2 linked regions of the Homo sapiens genome follow. The protein of the gene in region 1 purifies or fractionates together with the protein of each later gene. This does not show direct contact. Each region holds a gene or a part of one and is shown in the gene's direction. Other genes may lie near its edges.

What was found. Proteins that work in one complex are often made in the same cells at the same time.
Region 2: the proteins of COX5A (region 1) and SLC30A9 purify together in Homo sapiens (affinity purification with mass spectrometry; 3 studies listed by BioGRID and IntAct, with this or other methods). This does not show direct contact.

Annotation. Positions count from the first base shown.
Region 1 is NC_000015.10:74,928,055-74,935,076, reverse strand, and holds part of COX5A (cytochrome c oxidase subunit 5A, mitochondrial precursor), read left to right. Parts: intron 1-5,844; coding exon 5,845-5,961; intron 5,962-7,022. UniProt on the Homo sapiens protein: Component of the cytochrome c oxidase, the last enzyme in the mitochondrial electron transport chain which drives oxidative phosphorylation.
Region 2 is NC_000004.12:41,986,121-41,993,550, forward strand, and holds the start of SLC30A9 (proton-coupled zinc antiporter SLC30A9, mitochondrial), read left to right. Parts: upstream 1-4,409; 5' UTR 4,410-4,531; coding exon 4,532-4,640; intron 4,641-7,430. UniProt on the Homo sapiens protein: Mitochondrial proton-coupled zinc ion antiporter mediating the export of zinc from the mitochondria and involved in zinc homeostasis, zinc mobilization as well as mitochondrial morphology and health.

The DNA of each region.
Region 1 (7,022 bases):
GGGTTGATTATTTATTAAATGGAAAACTATCCGATTTAACTAAATTTAAACCCAAAGGATCAATGAGCCCTTTTATTTTTCTATATATGTTAGCCTTTTTTGTTTTTAAATGGAGTGCTTAACTGAATGCCAAAAAGCAGTGTTAGAAATAGCTTTTTAGGATGAAGCCCTAAAAATGTCCTCATTTTTCACAGCTGCTTCTTTTTTCTTACTTTGGGACTTTCAGGTTACGTAAAAGCTCTGAGTAATTGTTTTCCAAAATAATTTGCCTTTCAAGCTTCAATACTAGGTGGAGATCCTGTTCTTAAGTGGGGTGGGGTGTGTGGGGCAGAGAATGCTAGTAGAGTTTACCTAAAAAAAGTTAAGCATGTGGGGGATGTGTCCATAGCTAATAGAATAGATCCTGCTTTACCCATTATTGGATTTAACAATATAATTTAAATCATGGCCGGGCATGGTGGCTCACGCCTGTAATCCCAGCACTTTGGTAGGCTGAGGCGGGCGGATCACAATGTCAGGAGATCGAGACCATCCTGGCTAACGCGGTGAAACCCCGTCTCTACTAAAAATACAAAAAAATTAGCCGGGCGTGGTGGCGAGTGCCTGTAGTCCCAGCTGCTGGGAAGGCTGAGATAGGAGAATGGCGTGAACCTGGGAGGCGGAGCTTGCAGTGAGCTGAGATTGCGCCACTGCACTCCCGCCTGGGCGACAGAGTGAGACTCCATCTCAAAAAAAAAAAAAAAATTTAAATCACGTGGGGAGAGTCTGTTTTAGCCCTTCAGAAAGGGATGTATGGGTTTTTAAATTTTTATTTATTTTAATTTGTTTGATATAGAGTGTTGCTCTATCACCTAGGCTAGAGTGCAGTGGCGCAGTCATAGCTCACTGCAGCCTTGTTGCCCTGGGCTCAAGGGATCCTCCCGCCTCAGCCTCCTGAGTAGCTGGGACCACCAAACCCCGCTAATTTTTTAAGTTTTTTGTGGAGAATGGAGGTCTGTCTTTGTTGCCCAAGCTGGTCTCTCAGTCCTGGCATCAAGCGATCCTGCCTTGGCCTCTCAAAGTTCTAGTTCTGTTTTATAAAAGACTTTTTGGAATACAACCAGTTTGTAATTTGGCTTCCAGAAGACATATGATCAAATCCTTGAAGGTGGTGATCTCCTTGACTTGGATTTGCTGTTGGTGGTCATCTTATTCACAGTTAGGAAACAAAGCCTAGCACTCATGTAGTCAAATCCATGCCCAGCAGTGAACAAAACGAATTGCTTATCATGAAGCACTGTTGTGGATGGGACAGGTAATTACCTCTGGGGAAGGAGTACATAGACCTTTCATTGGGTAAATACTTAGGAGTGGAATTACTGTGTTATATGGTAGGTTTGTGTTTAACTTGATAAGAAACTGCTTAAACCGTCTTCCAAAGTGATTGTATCATTTTATACTTGCACTTTCAGTATTCAGTTAAGGCTAGCTTTAGTTTTTGAAGAGGTGGCTTATAATTTTTTCTTTTTTGAGACAGGGTCTCACTCTGTCTCCGAGGCTAGTGCCACTGCATCTGGCCCTAAGTTCTTGATAATAGTGCATTAGATGGTTGTTCTAATCTATGTTTTTACATAGATAGATAGATAGATAGATAGATAGATAGATAGATAGATAGATATTTTTTTTTTTGAGACGGAGTCTTGCTCTGTCGCCCAGGCTGGAATGCAGTGGCACGATCTTGGCTCACTGCAACCTCCCTGGGTTCAAGCTATTCTCCTCCTTCAGCATTCCAAGTAGCTGGGACTACAGGGGTGTGCCACCACGCCTGGCTAATTTTTTGTATTTTAGTAGAGACAGGGTTTCACCATGTTGGCCAGGCTGGTCTTGAACTCCTGGCCTCAAGTGATCTGCCTGCCTCAGCCTCCCAAAGTGCTGGGATTACAGGTGTGAGCCACCGCACCTGGCCTTGTTTTCTGATATATTAAATTTGAATATTAGTCTTGTAAGACTTATTAAATATCCACGTAGTTTTGATTAAATGTTCATACTTACCAGACATATTTAGGTGTAGAGATCCATTTTTTTCTTGTTGTAGAAATTAAGGCTGGGCACCGTGGCTCATGCCTGTTATCCCAGCACTTTGGGAGGCCGAGGCAGGCAGATCATGAGGTCAAGAGTTCGAGACCAGCCTGACTAACATGGTGAAACTTTGTGTCTACTAAAGATACAAAAAATTAGCCTGACATGGTGGCGCATGCCTGTAATCCCAGCTACTTGGGAGGCTAAGGCAGGAGAATCACTTGAACCCGGGAGGTGGAGGTTGCAGTGAGCCGAAATCGTGCCATTGCACTCCAGCCTGGGCGACAGGGTGAGACTCTGTCTCAAAAAAAAAAAAAAAGAAATTAAAACGTGTTCACTTCTAGTCCATTTATGTACATGTTCCACTTCATTCTGGGCTTGGATTATGTAGGTAATTTAGGTCTCTGGGAAGATCTTTTCTGCTTCGTTTTTTTGCTACTCTTCCTCCTGCCAGTTACTGCATTAAAGATATATAGGATATTACTAATGTTTAAATTTCAGTGTTCTTAGAACAACAATGTTGAGAGGTTTCTGGGTGAAGTTTTTAAAAATATATATATATGTATGTTAAGGCTGGGCATGGTGGCTCACACCTGTAATTCTAGTATTTTGGGAGTGGTAGGATTGCTTGAGGCTAGGAGTTTAAGACCACCCTGGGCAACATATCAAGACCCCCATCTCTAAAAGTAAATAAATAAAAATATGTTAAGCCTTAAACAACTGGAAGTTACACCACACTTATCTAATACAGGTAGTAGGAAATGTGATTTGAGATAGGTTTCATTTCTTTAAGTTATGATTTCTATAAATAGACAACTAAGACGTTTTTAGATAAGGGTTAGTTTATAGCTACCATTTGTTTAATACTTACCAGTGCATAGTGTTAACCTACCTGTTTTCACATTTAATCTTCATAATCTGCTAAGGGGGGTAGCGTCCCCATTTTACAGATAAGGAAAATAAACTTAAGTTAATTTTCCAGGGTCAAACAGAGAGAGCGAAGAGCCTAGAGGTATCTGAGTGCTAGGTTGTGCTGCATTCAATACCCAAAGATAAAATTTTCTGCCTCCGCCTATCCCCCTACCTGTTCCAGAGGCTGTTCAGAAGGAATTCAGATTTCCAAACTCAATTCAGTGTCCATTTGACAAGAAGAAAGAAAAAATGGGGCTGGGTGCAGTGGCTCGCGTCTGTAATCCCAGCACTTTGGGAGGCTGAGGTGGGCAGATCACTGGAGGTCAGGAGTTCGAGACCAGCCTGGGCAATGTGGTGAAATCCCGTCTCTACTCAAAATACAAAACTTAGCCAAGCTTAGTGGCGCTCGCCTGTAGTCTCAGCTACTCAGAAGGCTGAGGCAGGAGAATCACTTGAATCCAGGAGGCAGAGGTTGCAGTGAGCTGAGATTGTTCCACTGCATTTCAGCCTGGGTGACAGAGTGAGACTCGATCTCAAAAAAAAAAAAAAAAAATGGAAATGCTTTTCATACAGTACTCTATGTAAACATCATTTCTTTTTTTCTTTGAGACAGAGTCTTGCTGTGTCGCCCAGGCTGGAGTACAATGGCATCATCTCACCTCACCTCAACCTCCGCCTCCTGGGTTCGAGTGATTCTCCTGCCTCAGTCTCTCGCGTAGCTGAGATTACAGGCGCCCGTCATCACGCCCAGCTAATTTTTGTATTTTTAGTAGAGACGGAGTTTCACAATGTTGATCAGGCTGGTCACAAACTCCTGAACTCAGGTGATCCACCAGTCTCAGCCTCCCAAAGTGCTGGCATTACAGGTGTGAGCCACTGCGCCCAGCCCAAAATATTCCTAGTAAAACAGTATTATTTTGCATTAGGTGTAGATTAGAGTGTACGTTCCCTTAGGGGATTTATCAGAATATTTTGGGAAGGGGCTGTAGTTTGATAAAGCAATTTGTATGTGTAATTTGTCAGGATGTGTAATTTATTTTGGAATATAATAACATGAGAATTTTTTTTTTTTTTTTTTTTTTTTTTTTTTGAGACAGAGTCTCGCTCTGTTGCCCAGGCTGGAGTGCAGTGGCGTGATCTCTGCTCACTGCAAGCTCCGCCTCCTGGGTTCACGCCATTCTCCTGCCTCAGCCTCCCAACTAGGTGGGACCACAGGCGCCCGCCACCACACCTGGCTAATTTTTTGTATTTTTAGTAGAGACGGGGTTTCACCGTGTTAGCCAGGATGGTTTCGATATCCTGACCTGGTGATCTGCCCATCTCGGCCTCCCAAAGTGCTGGGATTACAGGCGTGAGCCACCAAGCCCGGCCCGAGATTTTTTTTTTTTTAATGTGTGAATGAAGTATATAAGTTTATTTAAGAACTTGAATGGTGCCAGGGCTGGTGGCTCACACCTGTAATCCCAGCACTTTGGGAGCCAAGGGAGGAAGGAATGCTTGAGCCCAAAGAATTTGAGGCTGCAGTGAGCTGTGATTGCGCCACTACACTCCAGCCTAGGCAACAACAGAGCGAGAGCCTGTCTCAAAAAAAAGAACTTGAATGGACATTAGTATTGCTCTTAGTTTTTTTTTTTTGTTGCTTTTTTGGTTTTTTTTGTTGTTGTTGTTTATTGTCTTTTTTTTTTTTTTTGAGGCGGAGTCTCGCTCTGTCGCCAGGCTGGAGTGCAGTGGCACAATCTTGGCTCACTGCAACCTCCGCCTCCTGGGTTCAAGCAATTCCCCTGCTTCATCCTCCCGAGTTGCTGGGACTACAGGCACGCGCCACCACACCCAGCTAATTTTTATACTTTTAGTAGAGATGGGGTTTCACCATGTTGGCCAGGATGGCCTTGATCTCTTGACCTCTTGATCCACCCGCCTCAGCCTCCCAAAGTGCTGGGATTACAGGCGTGAGCCACTGCGCCCGGCCTAGTCTTAGTTTTTTAGTTTTTGTTTTTGTTTTTGTTTTTGTTTGTTTGTTTGTTTTTTGAGTTGGAGTCTTGCTCTGTCGCCCAGGCTGGAGTGCAGTGGTGTGATCTCAGCTCACTGCAACCTCCGCCGTCCAGGTTCACGCCATTCTCCTGCCTCAGCCTCCCGAGTAGCTGGGACTACAGCCGCCCGCCACCACACCTGGCTAATTTTTTGTATTTTTAGTAGAGACGGGGTTTCACCGTGTTAGCCAGGATGGTCTTGATCTCCTGACCTCGTGATCCGCCTGCCTCGGCCTCCCAAAGTGCTGGGATTACAGGCGTGAGCCACTGCGCCTGGCCTATTCTTAGTTTTTAGAAGTGGGGTGTCGCTGTGTTGCCCAGGCTGGAATGCAATGGCTATCTTATCAGGTTCTGTCATATTGTTAGCACCCTACGACCTTGAACTCCTGGGCTCGGGTAATCTTCCTGCCTCAGCCTCTGAGTAGCTGGCACTACAGGTGTGTGCCCCACTATGCCCACCTGGGACATTTTTACTTAGGAATTAATACTCTGGTTATGTGTAAAAATTCAAACAATATGGAAGTATATAAAGTAGTTTTTACGTCCCATGATAATCACTGTTAATTTAAAATCAGAGGGAACCACTGTTAATAATTTCAAGCGAGTATTATACATTAGGGAGAAAAGTATAAACATGCCTATGTAATACTTTTTGTTCTACTTGATTTTATTTGCTTAATTTAAAATATATCTTTCTGTATCAATGTATACGATGTATTTCATTTGACCTGTTCAATATTTTTGCTGCCACAACATATATAGTCAACTCAAAATTTAATGCATTGAACAAAATATATCAAGTACTATTTGTGTACATTGAAGTTATGGTTCTTTCACATTATAGCTATCCAGTCAGTTCGCTGCTATTCCCATGGGTCACAGGAGACAGATGAGGAGTTTGATGCTCGCTGGGTAACATACTTCAACAAGCCAGATATAGATGCCTGGGAATTGCGTAAAGGTAATTGGAACATAAACATATTTGTCTATTTTGGTGTGTAAATATGAACTGCTTCTGCTCCTTTATTGAGAGCAACTGTTTCGAAAACATGCGTTGTTTAAACTGGTTACTTCATGCAACTTGCAGTTAGGAAAGTTTATGGCTACCTATAAAGCAGGATTTTAAGGCAGGCACTATTGACATTTTGGGCCAGATAATTCTTTGTTGTAGGGGACTGTCCTTTACACTGTAGGGTGTTTAGCATCACCTTTGGCCTCTACCTGCTAGGAGCCAGTATGCACACATTCGTATCATGACAACCAAAAATGTTTCTAGGCATTACCCAGTGTCTCCTGAGGGATGAAGTCACCCTTAATTGAAAACCACTGCTATAGCAATAAGGCTAGATGAGCAAAAGGTAACAGTTTTGTACATTTCAAACAATTTACATAGCACGGGCGCGGTGGCTCACGCCTGTAATCCCAGCACTTTAGGAGGCCAGGGTGGGCGGATCACGAGGTCAGGAGATCAAGACCATTCTGGCTAACATGGTGAAACCCCGTCTCTACTAAAAATACAAAAAAATTAGCCGGACGTGGTGGCGGGCGCCTGTAGTCACAGCTACTCGGGAGGCTGAGGCAGGAGAATGGCGTGAACCCGGGAGGCAGAGCTTGCAGTGAGCCGAGATCGCGCCACTGCACTCCAGCCTGGGCAACAGAGTGAGACTCTGTCTCAGAAAAAAAAAAAAGAATTTACACAAAGCAGTCATTTGGTTCCCTTCCCCTTTGGGTGATGGTTTGGGTTTTTTGTTATTTTTGCATTGTTTTGCCATGAATAAGTATCTAAGTAAGTTAGAACTTGTCTTTCCTAAATTTGCAGATGCACACTTAACATGAAAAAATAGAATTAGGTGTAGGGTAATTTATCTCATACCAAAAATTCAATCTCAATGACTATCGTATTCACTGGTATCCTTTGTTTAAATATTTTAAAGTAATAAAAGCAAGAAACCTAAGTGCTTTAAACTTCTCTGCAGAAATGTAATGATTCCCTTTTGCTACAACCAATAGAATTCTTACTGA
Region 2 (7,430 bases), on another chromosome or scaffold:
ACACTCCACCTAGCAACCTCCATTTAACCCAAAGCAAAGGACCTTGATCCCCTATATTGCCTGTGTTGTAAGGGATGGGCTGGGGGTTCAGACGTCCTTCATAGATAAGGAGTGAAACTCAGGGTTAGTCGCTCCTGTTTCCTTAGTTTGGGATTCTGAGCACACATTCGTTTTAGATCACAGGGTCGTTCTCAGGATATGGTTGTTACTGCTGTCAGGTGCATCCTCTCTATAGCGGGGTACTGGCTACACAGTTTTTGTTCACTAGTGATAATTGTTAGAGCTATGCCCTTAATATATGTCTTGTGTGTATTATACTTCAATAAAAAGTTAAATTTTAAAAAACCTAGTAAGACTTTCTCTTGCTGCCCCCACCTGTGGCTTTGGGGAAGGAATTGACTCTTCACAAATGCTGCCCTCTCTAAAAATATTACACCTCCATGCTCTGTCTCAGCTTAATTCTTCTCAAGGATAAAGGTTATCAAACAGTCAGTCTCTTGCCTCCAGGAGTATTTAATAACTCAATTATTCCAGCTGTAATATGAATCTTGTTCACTACCCTCTAAGGAAAAGTGTGTGTATGTGTAATTTTTTCTCCACCATACCAGGTAAATTGCAGAGAAGGAGCTTTTATTGGAGAAGCTAAGAAGTGTTGAATAAGAGAGCTATGATCCAGGAATACAGTTATCATTGGAGAAATCATTCTCCTTTTCTTGGATGGAAGTGGCAAAGAGTGAACGTAAGTTTAATGGTAGTGGACTACTAAATGGCTATTTGACAAGATAATTGTGACAAAAAAAATCCCACAAGTAATTTCATAGGATAATGTCAGAGGGAAAACCTGTAAGAACAAGCCACTCCTTCCTTCTCTCCTCCTCTGCAATGCTCACTCAACCATGTAAACTGATTTGGAGTTAGAGGACCTGAGTCTGATTCCATCTTCTGTGACATTCTTGCTAAGTGAACTGTAGAAAAAACCTTTCACCTCTCTGAAAAATGGAGACGAGGATTAGCAACCTGGTCAGACCTGGTCAGAAACCACATCAAGTGCATGTTTCATTTCTTTTGCATGTTTGCCTTTACAGGCCAAATGTGTCTGTGCAGACCCTTATTGCTTCTGACCATTGTTGTACAGGAGAGGGGGTGTGACCAGGTAATTCTTTTTACCCATGTATAAGCCAGTTTTGTTTTCTGTTTGTTTTTTTTTGGTACAGATGGGATCTTATCGTGTTGCCCAGGCTGGTCTTGAACTTCTGGCCTCTTGCCTTAACCTCCCAAAGTGCTGGCATTACAGGCATGAGCCACTAGCACCTGGCTATAAGCCATTTTCTTTCTTGCTTCTTTTTTTTTCAAGACAGAGTCTCACTTTGTTGCCCAGGTTGTAGTGCAGTGGTATAATCTCGTTTCGCTGCAACCCCCACTTTCTGGGTTCAAGTGATTCTTATTCCTCAGCCTCCCGAGTAGCTGGGATTACAGGTGTGCACCACCACTCTCAGTTAATTTTTGTATTTTTAGTAGAGAAAAAGTTTTGCCATGTTGGCCAGGCTGGGCCATTTTCTTATTGAAGTGTTCAGGTGGGCAAGCTCCCTCCTCCCCCACTCCTAGAGGCAAAGAAAAAAAAAATCGCCAAAACGTGATGACAACAAGTATGTCTGTGTTCAAAATTAAATTTGTGTTTTTGGTAAGCCTCATGATAGAGCCACTTACTTTATTTTGTAATGGATTATCTAAGTCAGTTTTCCAGATAACCAGTCAAGTTTGTCTCAAGATCAGAGTTATTTTCCCAAAGCTATAGACAGGATGAAACCAAGCAATAGTAGTTAGCTCAATTGCACAAGCAAATTTCTGAAAGATGTTGGAACTTCTTCAGAGTTAATGGAAAACCTTGCAGGAATTATGGTGTATGGTAATAATCAAATGACACTTCACTCCTTTCCTACTTCTGTTTCTATCTATCTGACTTAATAGTTCCCTATATTTAGGCATCTATTTATATCATGTATCCTCATGAAACTTGGACAATTTTATACCATGTTGATCACATGAGTAAAAAATATCTGGGGAAATTCTCTCTTAACCTACATTCCAGGAAAAAAAAAATAGGAACACCATATTATCATTCAAGTCTTTTGAGAAGACATCACATTTTCTTCCAAAGGCAAGTACCCATTGACTTAGAAAGAGTGGTGTTTAAGATCAAGATCTTTGTGCCTTGGTTTCTTCGTCTACCTATAACTTATTTAAGGTATTATGAATGAGACAGTGTACACAGAGGGCCTGGCAATTAGTAAATGATTAATATTACTACTGCTGCTATTAGTTTTAAATTATCAATATATTTATTTATAAATTTGCTGCCTCTTCCAATAGAAAATAAGCCCTATGATACTAGAATCTTACCTGTTATGTATAGGTAGGCAACGCTGAATGTGTCTCAAATGGAGCATAAAAACAAAGTCTCTTGGTAAGGATGGGATTTAGGGTCAAAGGAAATTCCCCTAAGGAACTCTAAAACTGACATTATCTTAAGTTTTAGCACTTGGGGAAGTTTCAAAGACTTTCCAAAAGGATAAGTATATCATGATATGTAGGTATAAATACCAAGACAACTGCAGAGTTATTTTAATCCAAGTCTGTTGAGGCTTTATTATGTGATACAGCATTGTGAGAGTTAAGGTAACAGAAAATGATACACTTTGTTCTTCAAACTTATTTGGCAAATCAAGGGTACTGGAGGTTTATAACAATTAGTAGTGTCTAAGTCAAGTTACACCCCAACTATACCAGGAAAAAGAAGGACAGGAAAGCACACACTGTGAAATTTTACTGTGCACCAACATATTTTACACATCAGGTGGGCTGTTATGGAAATTAAGAACTCTGCACAAAATGTATTTTTTTTAAAAGTTTTATCAAGAAAGGAACATTTTCTTCTAAAAATGATTAGTACAGCTAAACAAAATAAAAATAATAATCCTATCGCACAAATTAAAAATAAAACCTGAGAAGTTTTGATCAGGCTTGCCTAAAACGAGTTGAAACCAAAGCCATTTTAAGAATCCAAAATATGAGATTAGTTTTGTTCAAAAAGAATTATCCATAAAAGTTAATAGATGTTTGCATAGTTACCATAAAATAAGAGGTAAGCCTTTATGTATTTTTACTTCATAAAGTTGAATTTCTATTAAAATCTATTACAAGAAAGGGAAAGTAACTTTCCAGTAATATTCAGATTTTTTAGTAATATTGAGCCTACATTTATGGGACATCATTTTTTAATGTTTGTCCACTGAATATTTTAAGTTATGTTTGTCATAGGAAATTAAATTTGCTTACCATTCTTAACGATAATCTCTTTCCTCATTTGGTTATACTTATCTCAATTAGTATAAGAGACTTGTTGATTTTTTTAAAAATTAAGGACATACTAAATTTCCCCGAGATAGTTATTTTGCAGTAATATAGATAAGCGACTCAGATTAACTTTAAAACAAACCACCATACATTCCATTCAATTTATTTTTGCCAGGCATTGTTTTAGCGGCTTTATACAGCCATGTACAAAATAGACAAGATTCCAGCATCATGATGCTTATTTTCTATTCTAGGACACAAAATAGAAAAAAAAATCTCAAATAGTGATAAGCGTTTTGAAGAAAAGTATATAGGACAGCCGGGTAGAGAATGACCAGGACTACCATAGCTAGGGTGGTCAAGGAAGGCCTCTCTTGAGTTTGAGTTAAGAGCTGAATGAGCATGGCAGAGAGAAACAGTTAACGTGGATACTGTTCAGGTTTCTTTCTCCCTGGGACCAAAATGTTTCGAAGTCTGCATACCTCCGTTTACCCTAACTTGTCATGAACATAAAACCTCTTATATTGCAGGCAAAAATCTGAGGTTCACAGATTAGTAGGGCAAGTAGCTGATTCCGAAGTGTGTACTTGCCTTTATGATACTGGATACACACTGGTGTTAACAAGGAGAACGATGTACGTGGCAGACGTTCGGAGAGTACTGGACATGTTGGTTCTAATTTGGGTTTATCCTGGCAGGCTCTAGGTAGAGAGGCTCAGAAAACCTGCGTCCATCCTTCCCATCTTTCCTCCCATTTCCGAAACCACGGCCCCGGTTTCGAGTCCAGAAAAAAAGGAATAAGTAGAACTCCCAAAGGACAGCTTTCCTGGCTGAACAAGATGTAAACAGTTTACGTGATTTCCAACCAAGCGCAAAAGTACAGGTGCAAAAGAAGACGGCAGACACCAAACTTCCCCTGCAGCCACGCCCTCCCCACTTTGGGAGTCTGGGTCCCCGGGAAGGAAGGCCTCCCTATTGGTGCTCAACGTGTTACGTCACTTCCGCTACCTCCACGGCAGGCGTCGCTAAATGACGTTGCCGTTTCCGGGTCACCCAGGCAGCTTGTGGCGGCGAAGCCATCGGTGTTCGCTGATGTCCAGTCTATGGAGTCAGTTGGTACCGGTGGCGGCGCGGAGGCAGAAGGCGGTGTCCGAGTAGGGGCCTCTGCCCCACCAGGATGTTACCCGGCTTGGCCGCCGCCGCGGCCCACAGATGTAGCTGGTCCTCCCTGTGCCGGCTCCGTCTGCGATGCAGGGCGGCGGCCTGTAATCCCAGCGACCGCCAGGGTGAGTGTCCCGCGCTGGCCGCTGGCTCCGTAGAAGCCGAACTGGAGGGCCAGGCTGGGCTCGGCGCCTCGCCTGGGGCAATTCGCCCACTTGCCTTTCGCCAACCTCAGAACCTTCCTTTCTGGCCTCCGCCTTTCCAGTTCAGCCTGCGCAGCCCGCGGGGGTCCTGACAGGTCTCTGACTCTGATGCCTTCTGCAGCCCTAGCATGGCCCCCGCGGGAACTTGTGGGCACCTCGCGGGCCGGATTGCACCTCTGAAGCCTACCGCTTTGTACCAAACAAAATGTTACGTGCGCATCGCGGTGTCCCGCGGTTACTCACCTCCGCGGTTGGAAATTGCGGACTCCGCAAAGTTCCAGGGTCTTTGGAGCTTTCCAGCGCACCTTCATTTAGCACTTGGTTGAGATTTTCTTGGCCTTCTTTTTCTTACTCTCCCAACTTATTTTCTTAAATTTTCTAAAAGGAAGGAGGGGTGCTACTCACTACGGATCTTTTGGAAGAAGTACGAAAGTATCCGACAATCATTGAATGAACCCAGTTTGGGTCCGAAAAACAAAGAAACTCTTCAGTTCGGCTGAGCAGTCTTTTTGGTGAAAAGGTGGCAGTTGTAGTGGTAACCCAGAAAAAAAGGTGGTTGAAGAGAATTTTCGTCTCTCTCAACATTCTTTTCTGACTCAAATTTAAATGGTTTGAGAGTTTCCAAAATAACATTGAACTAATCAGGCTTACCTTCGTTTTTGCCGTAGCTTGACACACATTGCTTGACACTGAGAACTGATAGGATCTCTGAGGGAGAAGACAGAACTAAGTCCACCCTTAACCTAATCCCTCCATTCTTGGGATGCAGAGAGTATTTACCGAAACATTCATGTTCGAAGCCAGGTGTGGTGGTGCGCTCCTGTAGTCCAGCTACTCGGGAGACTGAGGCAGGCAGATCTTTTGAGCCCAATAGTTCTAGGCTAGCCTTGGCAACATAGTGAGCTGTCTGTAAAAACATAGGTTTGAAAAAACCTGTAACATGTTCGTGACCTCCTGAAAGAAGTCGGAAGTTGCAGTCATTCGAGATTTTATGTAATATAAGCTATAGTAACTATGCTGTGGATATAAATTAGAATATATTCGTATCTTTTATTTGCAATAAATGTAAAGCTGAATCTTAGAATTTCAAACGGATAAATTTTAACAGCACTATTCCCAGGGCTTTTTTGGTAGTGATAGAAAAGTGTAACTGTTGAGTTTTTCCATATTGGCAATATACTGCCAGGTTCCCTTATGGACAGAATGAATCATCGGCTGGGTGCAGTGGCTCATGCTGCTAATCCTCAGGAAGATTGTAAACCTTAGGACGCTGAGGTGGGTGGATCGCTTCAGCCCAGGAGTTCCAAGACCAGCCCGGGCAACATGGCAAAACTGCCTCTCTACAAAAAATTAGCCTGGTTTGGTGACGCGCGCCTGTAATCCTAGCCTGTACTCAGGAGGCTGAGGTGGGAGGATCGCTTGAGCCCAGGAAATTGAGGCTGCAGTGAGCCTTGAGCATGCCAGTGCACTCCAGCCTGGGTGACAGAGTGAGACCTGTCTCAAAAAAAAAAAAAGAAAAGAAAAAGAAAAATGAATCATACGTTTATACTGTACTCCAGAATCCCCAAGTAAGTTTCTAACACAATTGTTTCTATTGACCAAGCAATTTTGGCATTTTACACTGAAATTACAGTGGCTGTTAAATTTAGTCTAAACTGCCCTTTAAGTGTTGGCAAAAAGGAGAAGAAACAGTGTAATTTGTAATCCCTCTTCTGTGTAGCTGTCATTATGTTGAAAATTATGTATTCTTTGTCTCATCTGTCTGTGAAACACAGATAATTATTACCTACCTTAGTGGTCAAAATGACTTTGCAAAGTTGTTTGGAATGTTTATTACTACAAAAAATTAAAATTTTTTTTACACTTAAAAATGCTTAGTAGGTTTTTAAAAATAACTTTGTGAAAATTTAGTTTCAGTAATGAAGCATTTCTTAAAAGGGCAACCATTATTATGGCAAAATTTAAAAATCATTTAGAAAAAGAGTACTATTTAAATTGGATGCATGTGAGAAGACTATTTGAAGAACTTTTGGAGAAAGAAAATCTAAAAACAGTTGTTTTTATTTGTCTAGAAGTAAGGTTTAGTTTATGCTTCTAAAATGCCTGTGGCTGGGAAAAGCTTATAAAGCATAAGGAGAGGAGGAAACCTTGAGGGATTGCTTGAATACTTAAAAATGAGGAATGCCTTTAAAGGCAAAATAGAAACTGTCTAAAAGAAATATGAGAGCCCTGTTTGTAATTTTGAGTTGTCTGATAGCCACATTAAAAAAAGTAAAATTAAAGATGAATTAATTTTAATATATCCTAGAATTAATTTTAATAACGAAATTTATATATTTTAATAATAAAATATATAAAATTTAATACTATTTTATTAAGTATATTCAAAATATTTCAACATGTAATCAATATCAAAATTATTGAAGTATTTTACATCATCTTTTTGTACTGTCTTTAAAACCCAGTGAGTATTTTACACTTTCAGCACATCACAGTTCAGACTAACCACGTTTTAAGTGCTCAGTAAACAGTGACTACTCAATTAGATAGTGTAGTTAGAGTTAGTATCTAAGTTATAAAGAATTTTTACAAACCAGTATACATTCCAGTAGGAAAATGGACAAAGGAATTGAATACAAAGTTCATAAAGTTGTTCAAGTGGCCAATAAAAATGCAAAAATGTTCCATACTGAAAAACAGAGACTTTAAAGG